Linked DNA regions of Homo sapiens. The gene in region 1 interacts genetically with each later gene. Each region holds a gene or a part of one and is shown in the gene's direction. Other genes may lie near its edges.

Evidence for each region.
Region 2: changes in EIF3D (region 1) and EXOSC9 together harm fitness more than expected from each alone (negative genetic interaction), as found in Homo sapiens cells (one large-scale study listed by BioGRID).
Region 3: changes in EIF3D (region 1) and NCAPD2 together harm fitness less than expected from each alone (positive genetic interaction), as found in Homo sapiens cells (one large-scale study listed by BioGRID).

The regions. Positions count from the first base shown.
Region 1 is NC_000022.11:36,521,941-36,526,926, reverse strand, and holds part of EIF3D (eukaryotic translation initiation factor 3 subunit D), read left to right. Parts: intron 1-795; 5' UTR 796-805; coding exon 806-928; intron 929-1,217; coding exon 1,218-1,263; intron 1,264-2,194; coding exon 2,195-2,331; intron 2,332-2,946; coding exon 2,947-3,032; intron 3,033-3,645; coding exon 3,646-3,718; intron 3,719-4,986. UniProt on the Homo sapiens protein: mRNA cap-binding component of the eukaryotic translation initiation factor 3 (eIF-3) complex, a complex required for several steps in the initiation of protein synthesis of a specialized repertoire of mRNAs.
Region 2 is NC_000004.12:121,810,260-121,814,844, forward strand, and holds part of EXOSC9 (exosome complex component RRP45), read left to right. Parts: intron 1-1,323; coding exon 1,324-1,412; intron 1,413-2,974; coding exon 2,975-3,121; intron 3,122-3,606; coding exon 3,607-3,788; intron 3,789-4,585. UniProt on the Homo sapiens protein: Non-catalytic component of the RNA exosome complex which has 3'->5' exoribonuclease activity and participates in a multitude of cellular RNA processing and degradation events.
Region 3 is NC_000012.12:6,510,039-6,515,024, forward strand, and holds part of NCAPD2 (condensin complex subunit 1), read left to right. Parts: intron 1-36; coding exon 37-95; intron 96-183; exon of another isoform or gene 184-513; intron 514-590; coding exon 591-772; intron 773-1,071; coding exon 1,072-1,214; intron 1,215-4,226; coding exon 4,227-4,354; intron 4,355-4,425; coding exon 4,426-4,549; intron 4,550-4,734; coding exon 4,735-4,882; intron 4,883-4,986. UniProt on the Homo sapiens protein: Regulatory subunit of the condensin complex, a complex required for conversion of interphase chromatin into mitotic-like condense chromosomes.

The DNA.
Region 1 (4,986 bases):
AGGATCTTGTTTATTTTGCAGATGGAAAAGACTAAGGTGGCTGGACGTGGTGGCTCACGCCTGTAATCCCAGCACTTTGGGAGGTCGAGGCGGGAGGATCATTTGAGGTCAGGAGTTCAAGACTAGCCTGGACAACATGGTGAAACCCTGTCTCCACTAAAAACACAGAAAATAGCCAGGCGGCGCTTGCCTGTAATCCCAGCTACTCAGGAGGCTGAGGCAGGAGAATCGCTTGAACTCGGAAGGCGGAAGTTGCACGCCACTGCACCCCAGCATGGGTGACAAAGTGAGACTCTGTCTCAAAAAAAAAAAAGAAAGAAAGAAAAGACTACTAAGTCTTAGGGAAGTTGAGTTTGTATGAATTGGTGAAGGTATATCTCAGAACCAAAACAAGGTTACTATATTTGAAAAAACATTAGGACATTTTATCAAATCTGACACCATTAAATTTTTTTAAACACTTATGTAACACAGAAAAAGAAAAACTACCAATCAATACAACACCCTGTCAAACACAAGGTGCAGCCTCATTTTAAAGATGTTACAGTAAAAAGAGAGTGTCGTGGAATTAATGAAATATGAAAAATCAGTTTTGTTTGCATTCTTCTCAGTTTTAAGTACATATTCACAGTATAATTAACAAAAACAGTAGTAGTCGCTCAACAGTTGAGGGTTCCATTTTGCGTGTTGCTTTTTGAGTTCTATCATTTATGTCTTTGCTTACTTCATATGGAGGGTGTTTTGTACTCTGAGGCCTTCGTTCATGCCGCTACTCACATGATTTATATTTTTCAGATTTTGGAAGATGGCAAAGTTCATGACACCCGTGATCCAGGACAACCCCTCAGGCTGGGGTCCCTGTGCGGTTCCCGAGCAGTTTCGGGATATGCCCTACCAGCCGTTCAGCAAAGGAGATCGGCTAGGAAAGGTACATGCCTGTCAGCAGGAGTCTGAATCTTTGCAGCTGTGGCTGCTACTCTCGAGTCCCTGTTTAGATTTTATTGTCTCAAAATCTTAACTCCTGAATTTCTTATAGGGATGCCAGCTGAGAAAGGTTATCTCTGGGTGTAGTCATAGAAGAGCTGGGCACTTACAGAGGTGTTGTGAACAAATTCTGAGACTCTTCCACGCTGTCCTCTCGCGCTCAGGGATTTCTGGTTCTGCAGAAACTTGCCTGGTTGACCTGTGCATTCTCTGTCTTTTCTTGTTCTTCGTAGGTTGCAGACTGGACAGGAGCCACATACCAAGATAAGAGGTACACAAGTAAGTGTTTCTGCAACTGAATGCCCCAATCAGGGCCTTGGGAAAGTTGTTCTTTATTCTAATGACCTTCTTCTGAAAGCTTTTTAGAATGGGAAGAAACTGCCAACAATAATTCATAACTTTTAGGGATGTATTCTGGGCTTTAACAATAACCACATTTTTGGAAATAGCCCTCAAAACTTAGACCATTCATTAAAGAGGTCTAGCCTATTAAAATGGGGTTTTGGGCCCTTTTAAAAACCTGTTGAAAACATTAGCTGGGCGTGGTGGCGTGCACCTGTAATCCCAGCTACTCGGGTGGCTGAGGCAGGACAATCACTTGAACCCAGAAGTTAGAGGTTGCAGTGAGCAGAGATCATGCTATTGTACTCCAGCCTGGTGACAGAGCCAGATCCTGTCTCCAAAAAAAAAAAAAAAAAAAAAAGTAAAACCCCTGGTTTTAAGATCCTGGTACCATAAAAAGGCTTTTTCTCTCTGCCACTTCAGATAGTTGGAGGTGGCTGCCTGGAGAACTAAGTTAGGATAGCTGAGGCTGAGATTGGCAAGAAAGTATATCGTGATCTATTAGACATACCTGCCATGGGCCCCTGATAATGGAGATGGTGGTTAGCAATAAATACCTCAGATTCTCACACAATAACGCAGAGAGTGAAATGGGTTAGTTTGAGTCCTTCAGATTCTTGGCTTAGAAAGTTCTTTAGGCCAGAGTTGTTCAAAATTGAATGTGCATATGAATCATCCGGGGATCTTGTTAAAATGCTGGTTCTGATTCAGTGGGTATGGGGTGGGACTGTGAGTCTGTGTGTCTAACAAGCTTTCAGCCAATGCTACAGGTCTCAAGACCACACTTGAAATAGCAAGGCTTTAGACTGGTGCATATCTGGTAAAGTCTGTGGGTGCAGTTACTACATGCCATCACCTTTGCCTCCAGATAAGTACTCCTCTCAGTTTGGTGGTGGAAGTCAATATGCTTATTTCCATGAGGAGGATGAAAGTAGCTTCCAGCTGGTGGATACAGCGCGCACACAGAAGACGGCCTACCAGCGGAATCGAATGAGATTTGCCCAGGTAGGCCAAGAGCCAGCAACCACACCATCTTGGGGCTGTTACTGTTGGCCATCACCTGCTAAAAAATGCTACCTTGTGACTCCTAATGAGAGAGGGAAGCATATTATAGGTCTTTTCGTGAATCTCGGGTCACCGTTCCATAACAAGTGGTACCAAGGTGAACTTGCACTAGGATCAGGGATGCATTTAAATAGTTTATATTTCTGTTTGCCAGTAGCTAGGACATCAGACTTGTATGCTAAAAACATTTGTGCTGGATAAGAAGGTGCACCTGTGCCTGTTACCACACTTAATTGCTGTGTGCAGACTTTATTAAGTAGATGGTCCAGTCAGATTGCCTATTATTATTTAAAGAGGCAAACTCAGAAAATCTAATGAGACCCAGTAAACATACTTCAATGAAAAATATATCATGGGAGTATAGGTCTAAGCAAAGTCCAAGCACTTACCCCCTAACACCCCCAAGCTGTTGATGCCGTAGAGTGAAAGCACAGAGTAAGATGTGAAACTTGGGATTTGGCATCCTAAATTTACTCCAAAGACCTCCCACTTGTTCTGCCTATTGTGAGCCAAATCTCCAAGATTTTAACATGGATGTTTCTTGCTGATGCCCAGAGGAACCTCCGCAGAGACAAAGATCGTCGGAACATGTTGCAGTTCAACCTGCAGATCCTGCCTAAGAGTGCCAAACAGAAAGAGAGGTGAGATTTTCATCCTGCTGGAACAAGACACCCTTCCCAGACTGGCCGTATTTGGAAACCACAGGACCAAAGCAGGAGGATGGTTGTATTCCCCACCACTGCAAAAAAGGAAAATACTTTCTACAACCAGTTAAGCCCCCTTTTAGCTTGTCGTTCTCAGGCTGGTTCATGGCAGATAGCATGGGCAGGAAACTAACTCCTTGTGCTGGTCATGCGCACTAAAGGGAAACACAGGCAGGCAAGAAGAGGCTCTGGAGCTTACCTGGGCTCAGTTCTGCTGTGGGTCAACTCTAGGAAGCCCCCTGTATGCTGGTCCTTTGAGCCTCCTGGTGTTGTGTGGTCCAGCGGCCACTACACCCCAGATTGGAACTATCAGTGAACAGTCACTATAGATGAAGTAAAATCATCTGGTCAGTATTTGGAGGCAGTGTACCTTTTCTAACACCTCCAGTATGCACCGTCTGGGTCTCTTCCTTTCTCTAAGCCCATTTTTCGTAGTTTAAAGGAGTTAGTGGTGATGGTAAGGTTTAGCTGAAGAGAATGGCAGCGTGTGCCTTTTGAAGAAGCCACTGGTTTAAAGGTCTGCACTGAGATCATATGTCTGTCTTTCCAGAGAACGCATTCGACTGCAGAAAAAGTTCCAGAAACAATTTGGGGTTAGGCAGAAATGGGATCAGAAATCACAGGTAATGTATTTATACCAGAATTCTGCCTTGGAATTTGGTTCTGTTTATTTGGTTGTCTTTATTAATAGCTTAGATGAGATATACTTCACATACCGTACAATTTAGTGGTTTTTAATATATTTGAAGAGTTCTGTAACTGGTCAATTTCAGACCATTTTCATCACCCTCAAAAGAATCCCTTACCCTTTAGCAGTCACCCTGTCTTGATCTGTTTTCCGTTGCTAGAACAGAATACCTGAGAGTGGGTAAGTTATAAAGCGGTTTCTTTAGCTCATGGTTCTGGGGACTGGGAAGTCCCAGATCAGGAGCCACATCTGGTGAGGGCCTCATGCTGCTTGATAGCATGGCAGAAAAAGCAGAAGCGGGAGCAGGGTGCAACAGAGAAAAGGGCTAAACTTTGGGTAGTTAGCCCATTCCTGAGAGAAGGGCATGAGGCATTTATTCCTTTTAACGACCTAATCTCTTAAAGGCCCTACCTCCCGACACTGCCGCAGTAGCAACCAGATTGCCAAATGAATTCCAGGAGGCACACCCAAACACCAGCACCCCCAGTAGCCCAGCAGTAGGCAGCTATGAATCTGTTTTCTGTCTCGGGATTTTTTGTTCTAGACATTTTACATAAATGGAATCATACAATATGTGGTCTTTAGTAACTGGCAGCTTTTATTTAGCGTGTTTTCAAGAGTCATCCATGTGGTAGCATGTGTCGGTACAGTTTTCCTTCAGTATATGAAAGTCTACACATTCTCAAGTCCCACATTCGGCCTGTGGTAGCCACATATATGAAAAGTCGGCCCTCCATATACTCGGGGTTTGCATCCCAAGAATACTGTTTTCTTTTTCTTTTCTTTTTTGAGACAGAGTCTTGCTCTGTCACCCAGGCTGGAGTGCAGTGGCATGAATCTTAGCCAACTGCAACCTCTGCCTGCTGGGTTCAAGTGATCCTCCTACCTCAGCCTTCTGAGTAGCTGAGACTATAGGCATGCACCACCACGCCTGGCTAATTTTTGTATTTTCTGTAGATAGGGGGTTCTGCCATGTTCCCCAGGCTGGTCTCAAACTCCTGAGCTCAAGCAGTCCACCCACCTCAGCCTCCCAAAGTGCTGGGGTTACAGCCATGAGCCACTGCGCCTGGCTTGTATTTTCAATCCATGTTTGTTTGAAGAAAATCTGCATATTAAGTAGACCCATGTACTTCAAACCCATGTTGTTCAAGTTCAGCTGTGCTTCATCTGTTGTTGGTTTTTTTGGTTTTTGTTTTTTGTTTT
Region 2 (4,585 bases), on another chromosome or scaffold:
ACTGGTGGCTATGAGGTATCCTCCTCCTTCCTACCTTGGTGCTCCCGTGTCTGGCCTGCTGGAGTCTGACCCTTCCACCTAGAAGCAGGGTCTAGTGAAGAAAAAGATTTATATCCCTATTAAAAAAAAAAAAAAAGTGGCCGGGCATGTTGGCTTACGCCTGTAATCCCAGCACTTTGGGAGGCCGTGGCTGGTGGATCACTTGAGGTCAGGAGTTCAAGACCAGCCTGGCCAACATGGTGAAACCCATCTCTACTAAAAATACAAAATTAGCTGGGTGTGGTGGCTGGCGCACGCCTGTAATCCCAGCTACTTGGGAGGCTGAGGCAGGAGAATTGCTTGAATCCGGGAGGCAGAGGTTGCAGTGAGCTGAGATCGTGCCATTGTTCTCCAGTCTGGGCAACAACAGCAAAATTCCATCTGAAAAAATAAAAAATAAAATAAATAAATAAATATTAGCCGAGCTTGGTGGTGCATGCGTGTGGTCCTGGCCACTTGGGAGGCTGAGGTGGGAGGATTGCTTGAGCCTAGGAGGTGGAGGTTGAGTGAGCTGAGATCGTGTCACTGCATTCCAGCCTGGGCTACGGAATGAGACCCTGTCTCAAAAGCAAATAAAAATTTTTAAACATCCAATAGTAGACATTATGTAAAAAGATAGTTTTACTTGCACTTTTAGAACTACAATTGGCAGTAGTTCTGAAACCCAGCTATATATCATATTCACATGGGAGCTTTTAGAAAATAGATCTCCATATAGCATACAGTGTAGATGATTAAAAGCTTCTTTAGTTTGAATTCTAGTTCTGCCCCCATACTAGCTGATCTTGGGCAAATGATTTTATATCTTTGGGTCTCACTTTCTTTATCTGTAAAATAGGGAATGATGTTATTGCCAACACCTTGTTGTTATAAGGATATAAATATATTGCACAGTGTCTAGCACACATTTATTAAGTGTGCAATAAATGTTAGTTTCTGGTATCATCATCATCATCTTTACCAGCATCACAAGTACTACCCAGATTACCCACAGAAAAAGGAAGTTAGTGCATCCTGGAGCATATATGTGTCTGTGGCCTCTTCTGTGGTATCTTTTATACTGTTGTATAAGAAAGTTTTTATGTCTGTTCCCTTGATGTGACAGTCCTTCACATATCTTAAAACAACTTTCACATCTTGCCTTAATCTGTGTTTACATTGTATTCATGTTTGGAAAAGTCAGGCTTAAATTATAAAGGTAGAAAAATTTCATGGTTTTAGTTTCATTAGAGAAAACTATTTGGTTTATTGTCTTTAAACAACAGAATTCACTTTTATAAATAGGTTCTGAGATGCAGTAAAATCGCTGGTGTGAAAGTAGCAGAAATTACAGAGCTAATATTGAAAGCTTTGGAGAATGACCAAAAAGTAAGGTAAGTAACTTTTCCAGAACTAAGTGGTCTTTTATTTTCATTTTTTAAATTTTTATTATTTTTTTTAGTATAAGCAAGCTTTATTATGCATGAACTTGATTTCACATACAAAGTTAGAATGGCAATTTCAATTAAAATTGACTCATTAAAAAGTGTAAATACCATGGTATAGTTATGTTACCCAAAACTCCGAAAGGTAGTGAAACTGGTAACAGATATTGCTACTCATCTTTGGACGGATACAATAAAAGTATTAATGAAACTGGTTCCCAGACAAGTATGTGTCACTTGCTCCTGTGCCTTAGGGAGGAGAGGATGTTATAACACAAGCATTATTGATGCAGTGACTTGTGGATAGTTGCTCCTTATTAACACTGCTAAAATTAGGTTCACGTTTTTTACTTTGTGTGGGAGCTGGTGATTCTTGTCCTTTTGTTTTATGAGGGATATCTTTCAAAGTGCTGGCATCAAACCCACTTATTGCAAAATGCATCACAGATGGGAATTTAAGTCTGGGTCAAGTCCAGAATTCTAAAACAATAAAGAGGAAAGACCCTCCTAAGAGCAAGAGGTCTTCATTAATCCAGACTCCAAGATACAACACAGGGAACAGGAAATGGCCCTAAATGGTCTTTTAATATATTTTTTTTCTTAAGGATCTTCCTTGAACGAGGGCAACCATATAAATTTCACACTTGATCTTTCCTTATTTGTTAATCTGAATTGAGTATACTATTTAATGTGTTTTTAGAAAATTGGACTTGTTATATTTTCTGCAATTTAAATGTAACCTATATTGAAAAATCATATAAGATTTTTGTTTGTTTTTTGAGATGAAGTCTCACTTCTCACTCTGTCACCTAGGCTATAGTGCATTTGTGCAATCTCAGCTCACTGCAGCCTCCGCCTCATGGCTTCAAGTGATTCTCCTGCCTCAGCCTCCCAAATAGCTGAGATTACAGATGCATACCACCATGCCCGGCTAATTTTTATATTTTTAGTAGGGATGGGGTTTCGCCGTTTTGGCCAGGCCGGTCTCAAACTCCTGACCTCAGGTGATCCACCCGCCTGGGCCTCCCAAAATATTAGGATTACAGGTGTGAGCCACCGTGCCTGGAGACATAAGATTTTTCTTTAGCAGTTAACATTTTCTTAGGATAAAAATAATCTAGTAACTCAAATTAATGGAAGGAAACAGGTTGATTTCCATCTCTACCTCTTACTGTGCTATCTTAAGCAAGATACATAACCCAGCATTTCAGTGTCCTCTTCTATAATATGGGATATTAACACTACCTGGTAGGGCTGATTTGAGGGTTAGAGAATAGTATATTTTAAGCACCTAGCACATGGTCTGGCACGTGGTTTAATAAATGATTATGCTAACTATTTACTCTTGTTAGGCATAATAAATTGGTGAGGTTAAGTTAGATAAACTAACTCTCTTCCAATATTTTTCATCCACCAAAGGATAAAATAATAGTTTTTTTCCCTTCCTGTCTTCTATCCAATCTGTTACCTTCCTCCCCCTTCCTTCCCACCAAAAAAACCCCCACATACAGGAAAGAAGGTGGAAAGTTTGGTTTTGCAGAGTCTATAGCAAATCAAAGGATCACAGCATTTAAAATGGAAAAGGCCCCTATTGATACCTCGGATGTAGAAGAAAAAGCAGAAGAAATCATTGCTGAAGCAGAACCTCCTTCAGAAGTGTATCTTTATTTGGTGGTTTTTGCAGTAACAAGATTCATAACACTTGGCATTATAATATTAGGCTATATGAAGGATGTGTATACTGAAATTAGTTTTTGTAAACACTGTACTTTGTTAGAGAAAACACTTAAAATACAAGATAGAGATGTGAGTCATATTCTGTTGATGGTATAACATTCAGCTTCTATTCAGTTATCCTGGAAAAAACAGATTTTAAGGACCAATTTAATTTAGTACTATAACTAAAATGTTGAGAGAATCTGTCTCTTCACATTTCTTATTAATTGCATCCATAAAATCTTGCCTGAGTTTTTTTTCTTCTTCATTGTTCAGCCATCCATAGTGTAGCTATATTAAGTTTTTTTTCCCCTAGGAACTTGGGGCACACTTGAATCAATCTTACAAGAAGAAAACTTTCATTCTCATCTTCAACAGTTCATCAAATAGCAATATTTTTGTTACTCAGTTTTCTTAACTTGTTAAGTGTTTCTACACCTGTGCTATGGACTCCTGGAACTGCCCAAATTGGAGAGGGAGTAGAAAACTCCTGGGGTGATCTTGAAGACTCTGAGAAGGAAGATGATGAAGGCGGTGGTGATCAAGCTATCATTCTTGATGGTATAAAAATGGACACTGGAGTAGAAGTCTCTGATATTGGAAGCCAAGGTAGGTGACACTTTATGGCACACTTACTATATATTACATACATATAGTATTACCGTATAGTTATATATATAATGCATAAAATGTGTGTATATTTATATTATCACTGTATATAGTAATATATAGCATATTAGCTATATAGAGATGTATAGTGGATAAATAACATACAGGATACTATATAGAGAGAATATAGATATGTAGTTATATATAGGGATGTAAGTATTGCATTTTTAGAGGGGCTAAATATTGTGATTTAAATTTCAACTAAATTATTGTGGCTAGCTGCAATACTAATGCTACTTTCTAAAAGAATATGCATATCTTTGTAGAGTAGTGGAACACTGGCATAAATGATAGTGATATTTTTAATTAAAAAAATTTTGTGTGTGTGTATGTATGTGGGTGGGTTTTAAGGGAATGAGTTTCTTGAAGATCTTATTCCTCCCTGCTGTCTTTTTTTTTGTAGTTTCTAGACTGAAACAAAAAGCCCATCCCATATCATAACATATAATACTGCCTAAATAAAACTTTCTATGATGATAGAAACATTAAGTATCTACACTGGTATAGCAGCCACTAGCCCCACATGGCTAGTGAACACTTGAAATGTGGCTTGTGTTACTGAGAACTGAATTTTAAATTTTACTTAATACAAAATTAAGCAGCCACATGTGGCTAGTGGCTACCATGCTAGACATCGCAGTATTAGAACATAAAAAAATTCTATAAGTAACTAGAATACTGGTAGTCCTAGACGTTTCTTGCATTCTGAAAGCCATAGAACTGAAGTTGTTATGTAT
Region 3 (4,986 bases), on another chromosome or scaffold:
TTCCTGTCTCACCCCCACACTTTCTTTCCCTCATAGTCACTTTCGAAGTATAGATCCTGGCCTCAAAGAAGATACTCTGCAATTCCTGATAAAAGGTGTTTATGGGTCAGGGGGTAGGGGATGGAAGGTGTTTGTTATCGTTTGTTTGTTTGTCTGTTTGTTTGTTTTTCCTACATTTTGTCAGCCACATGATGATATCAAGGCTGTTGTGATTCAGTTGGTTTGGCTAAGCCCAGGGACCTTTGGCCTGTTAAAGGTCTGTAATCTTGGTGGGCGATACAGAGTTATGTGTGTTCACTGTAAGGGCAGACCAACAAGAACTTTTTCCTACTTTTGAGCTACCTCTTTTTAATAGGGGTGATTCTTCCAGTTGCTGGAGAGAAATTGTGGTAACTGGAGTGAGAGAGTAGGAACAGGGCATGTTCAGGGTATCAGGGCCAAGGGTCCTAAAGGACTTAGCTTGTGTTATGGCCACTGAGAGATGAAACACAGATCTTTGGTAATCTGATGGCTGCAAGTGCTGGGTGTTTTGAAGTTGGGGTATATGAAAGAAGTGAGTGAAACTGACTCCAAGATTCTGCCCCTCACAGTGGTATCCCGCCACTCCCAGGAGCTTCCAGCTATCCTGGATGATACAACTTTGAGTGGATCAGATAGAAACGCCCATCTAAATGCCCTCAAAATGAACTGTTATGCTCTGATACGTCTCCTGGAATCCTTTGAGACCATGGCCAGCCAGACAAACCTTGTGGACCTGGACCTTGGTGGGAAGGTAATTTGGAGTTTTGGGCTCACGTTATATGGGGTCTGGGGAGATAGGGGAATAGATGGAAAAGAAGGGAATCCAATGATCCACAAATCCTTTCTGTCCTCATTGAGAATTTAGGAGAAAGAACTCAAAAGTGTCACACGTTTTCTTCCTGGACAAGTAGCGCTGTGGAACTTGTAATATTTCTTCCGTATTACCTTCTATGTTGTCTTGGTACTAGATTGTTTGGGCACTCAGACTGACAGATCTTGACCCACTTTTTTCCCTTATTTTTTCCTCAATGTATACATGATCCTTTTTAGGGTAAGAAAGCTCGGACCAAGGCAGCCCATGGCTTTGACTGGGAAGAAGAGAGGCAACCAATTCTTCAGCTTTTAACACAGCTACTTCAGTTGGACATCCGTCACCTGTGGAACCACTCAATAATTGAAGAAGAATTTGTCAGGTGGGTAGGGAGGATGGCTACAGATAATACTGAGCTGTGAGAGTGAGGCTCTGTTGATAGATATGCCGTTTTTTTGGTTTTGTTTTTTTTTTGTGGGGGGACAGAGCTTCACTCTTGTCGCCCAGGCTGGAGCGCAGTGGTTCAATCTCGGCTCACTGCAGCCTCTACCTCCTGGGTTCAAGCAATTTTCCTGCCTCAGCCTCCCGAGTAGCTGGGATTACAGGTGCCCGCCACCACAAGCTGATTTTTGTATTTTTAATAGAGACGGGTTTTGCCATGTTGGCCAGGCTGGTCTTGAACTCCTAACCTCAGGTGATCTCCCTGCTTTGGCCCCCCAAAGTGCTGGGATTACAGGTGTGAGCCACCACGCCCAGCCAGAAGTCTATTTTTAAAATAAGTAAAATAAGTTTGATGGAAGAAGGTTGTGATTTTAAATCAGCTACTCTAGGCCCGGTGCGGTGGCTCACGCCTATAATCCCAGCACTCTGGGAGGCCGAGGCGAGTGGATCACCTGAGGTCAGGAGTTCAAGACCGGCCTGGCCAACATGGTGAAACCTTGTCTCTACTAAAAAAATATGAAAATTAGCTGTGCATGGTGGTGTGTGCCTGTAATGCCAGCTACTTGGGAGGCTGAGGCAGGAGCATCACTTGAACCTGGGAGAGGGAGGTTGCAATGAGCTGAGATCGCACCATTGCACTCCATCCTGGGCGACAAGAGCAAAATCCCGTCTCAAAAAAAATAGATAGGGCCAGGCGCGGTGGCTCACGCCTGTAATCCCAGCACTTTGGGAGGCTGAGGCAGGTGGATCACGAGGTCAGGAGATCGAGACCACGGTGAAACCCCGTCTCTACTAAAAATACAAAAAAAAATTAGCCGGGCATGGTGGCGGGCGCCTCTAGTCCCAGCTACTCAGGAGGCTGAGGCAGGAGAATGGCGTGAACCCGGGAGGTGGAGCTTGCAGTGACCTGAGATCGCGCCACTGCACTCCAGCCTGGGCAACAGAGCAAGACTCCATCTCCAAAAAAAAAAAAAAAAAAAAAGATAGATAGATAGATAGACAGACAGACAAACAGACAGACAAGCTACTCTAGTAAGACTTCTTTGAGATGGTGACATTTGAGCAAAGACCCAGAGGAGGTGACTGAGAGCTATGAGAATATGTGGAGGAATAGCAAGGGCAGGGAAAAGGAATAGCATATGCAAAGACCTTGAGGAGGGAGCATGTCCAGCACGTACGAGCAATAGCAAGGAGGCCAGAGAGCTGACAGCTGAGAGCAGGTACGAGGGTTAGGCCGTGAGGCCATGGGAGCAGTGGGGAGCCAGACCGCAGGTTCTTGTGGGCCATCATGGTGACTTTGGCATTTCCTCAGAATGAAGTGGAGCCACTGGGGAGCCACAAGCAGGGAGGTGAGGTGACCTGACTTGTACTTCAACAGGGCCATCCTAGCTGTTGTATTGAAATCGACTATGGAGGGAAAGGGGAAGCAAGAGACCAGTTAAGAGGCTGTTCCAATAACTCAAGCAAGAGATGATGGTCTCTTAGACCAAGGCGTGGCAGTGGAGATGGGGAGAAGTAGTTGGATTCTATACTTTTTCCTTAAGGTAGAGCTTACAGGATTTGCTAACAGACTGGGTGTGAGGTGGGAGGGAGAGTTCAGTCAAGGATGACTCTCCCGGGTTTTGGTCTGAGCATTTGGAAGACTGGAGTTAATGGTAACTGAGATAGGGAGAAGGCTGTGAATAGGTGTTTTGGGAGGAAGATCAGATGTTCTGTTTTGGACATACAAAGTTTGAGGTGTTTATTAGCCACGTAAAGTCAGATTTGGACGTTGAATATATAGATCTGGAGTTCAGGAGAGAGGTCTGAGCTAGAGATAACACATTTGGGAATATAATAGTATTCAGAGCCGTGAGACTGAATGAAATTACCAAATCAGTAAGTGTAGCTAAAAGAGCAGGAATCCAAGGACTGGTACCCTAGGGCACTCCAGCATTAAGAGTGAGGATGCCGGGTGCATGGCTCACGCCTATAATCCTAGCACTTTGGGAGGCTGAGGCAGGAGGATCACTTGAGCCCAGGAGTTTGAGATCAGCCTGGACAACATAGTGAAACTGTGTCTCTACAAAAAATAGAAAAATTAGCTGGGCATGGTGGAGGCTGAGGTGGGAGCATCACCTGAGCTATGAGGAGGTCAAGGATGCAGTGAGCCGTGATTGCACCACTGCACTCCAGCCTGGGCAACAGAGGCAGACCCTGTCTCAAAAAAAAGAGTCTGAGGAGGAACTAGCCAAAGAAACTGAGAAAGGAGTCTTGTTCTTGTGTCCTGGAAGCGAGATAAAGCATATATTTCAAGGAGAAAGTGAGTGATTAACTGTATCACATGCAGCTGTGAAAGACCACTTGAGATGCAGATTGAATCAGTCGTTATATTTAGGAATGAGAAGTCATTGGTGACTTTGTCTTTTTTTTTTTTTTTTTTGTGATGGAGTCTCGCAATGTCGCCTGGCCTGGAGTGCAGTGGCATGATATCAGCTCACTGCAACCTCCACCTCCCAGGTTCAAGGGATTCTCCTGCCTCAGCCTCCCAAGTAGCTGGGATTACAGGCGCCCACCACCACACCCAGCTAATTTTTTGTATTTTTAGTAGAGACAGGGTTTCACTATGTTGGCCAAGCTGGTCTTGAATGCCTGACCTCGTGATCCACCTGCCTCGGCCTCCCAAAGTGCTGGGATTACAGGCATGAGCCACCACACCCGGCCAACTCTATCATATTTTTATGATATATTTAGGTTCTTTGTCAGCATCACAACTGGTTGAAAGTTGGTAATCTTGAAGGAAGGAGTACCTAACTGGGGTCAGCAAAGCAAAGCAACTTGTTATAGAAAGTAATGGCTAGAATAAAGAAAACCCTGACTTTGGGAGCAGTAGGGATAGAATGAATGAGGCAGGGCTCTGATACAATTGGATTCAGACAGCTGCTTTCATCATCTCAAACTCTTCCTTTCTCAGTTTGGTTACTGGCTGTTGCTACCGCCTTCTGGAGAATCCCACCATTAATCACCAGAAGAACCGCCCCACTCGGGAAGCCATAACACACCTGCTTGGTGTAGCCTTGACCCGTTATAACCATATGCTCAGTAAGTTACCAGTCGCTTTGCCCCGCCTTTTTTGTATTGCCCATAATTTCTCATGTTTAATGCTTCCACAGGTGCTACAGTGAAGATCATCCAGATGCTGCAGCACTTTGAACACCTGGCACCTGTACTGGTTGCAGCCGTGAGTCTATGGGCAACTGACTATGGAATGAAGAGCATAGTGGGAGAGATTGTAAGGTGACTCTTCCTTCTCGAAGTTTCTCATGCTTATTTTCCTTGGGGAGGGAATAAAGAAAGATTGGAAATACATTATCTGTGCAACAGTAGATTCCTTCAGATATTAGATACCTGTCTTACCTTCCCTTACTGGGAACTGAATAATTGATCTATGTTGCTATGGCTGTGTTTTCTTCCCTGTGTAGAGAGATTGGACAAAAGTGTCCCCAAGAGCTGAGTCGAGACCCTTCAGGGACAAAGGGCTTTGCAGCATTCCTGACAGAACTAGCAGAACGTGTCCCAGCTATCCTGATGTCCAGCATGTGCATTTTGCTAGATCACCTGGATGGAGAAGTAGGTGGTCCACTAGGGGTCACTGAGCTTTTTCTGGGGATTTTAAGTCCAGTGTTGAAAGGCTGTTTCTTAACAGAACAAGAAAGTAGCTTTGACAAGTTGTC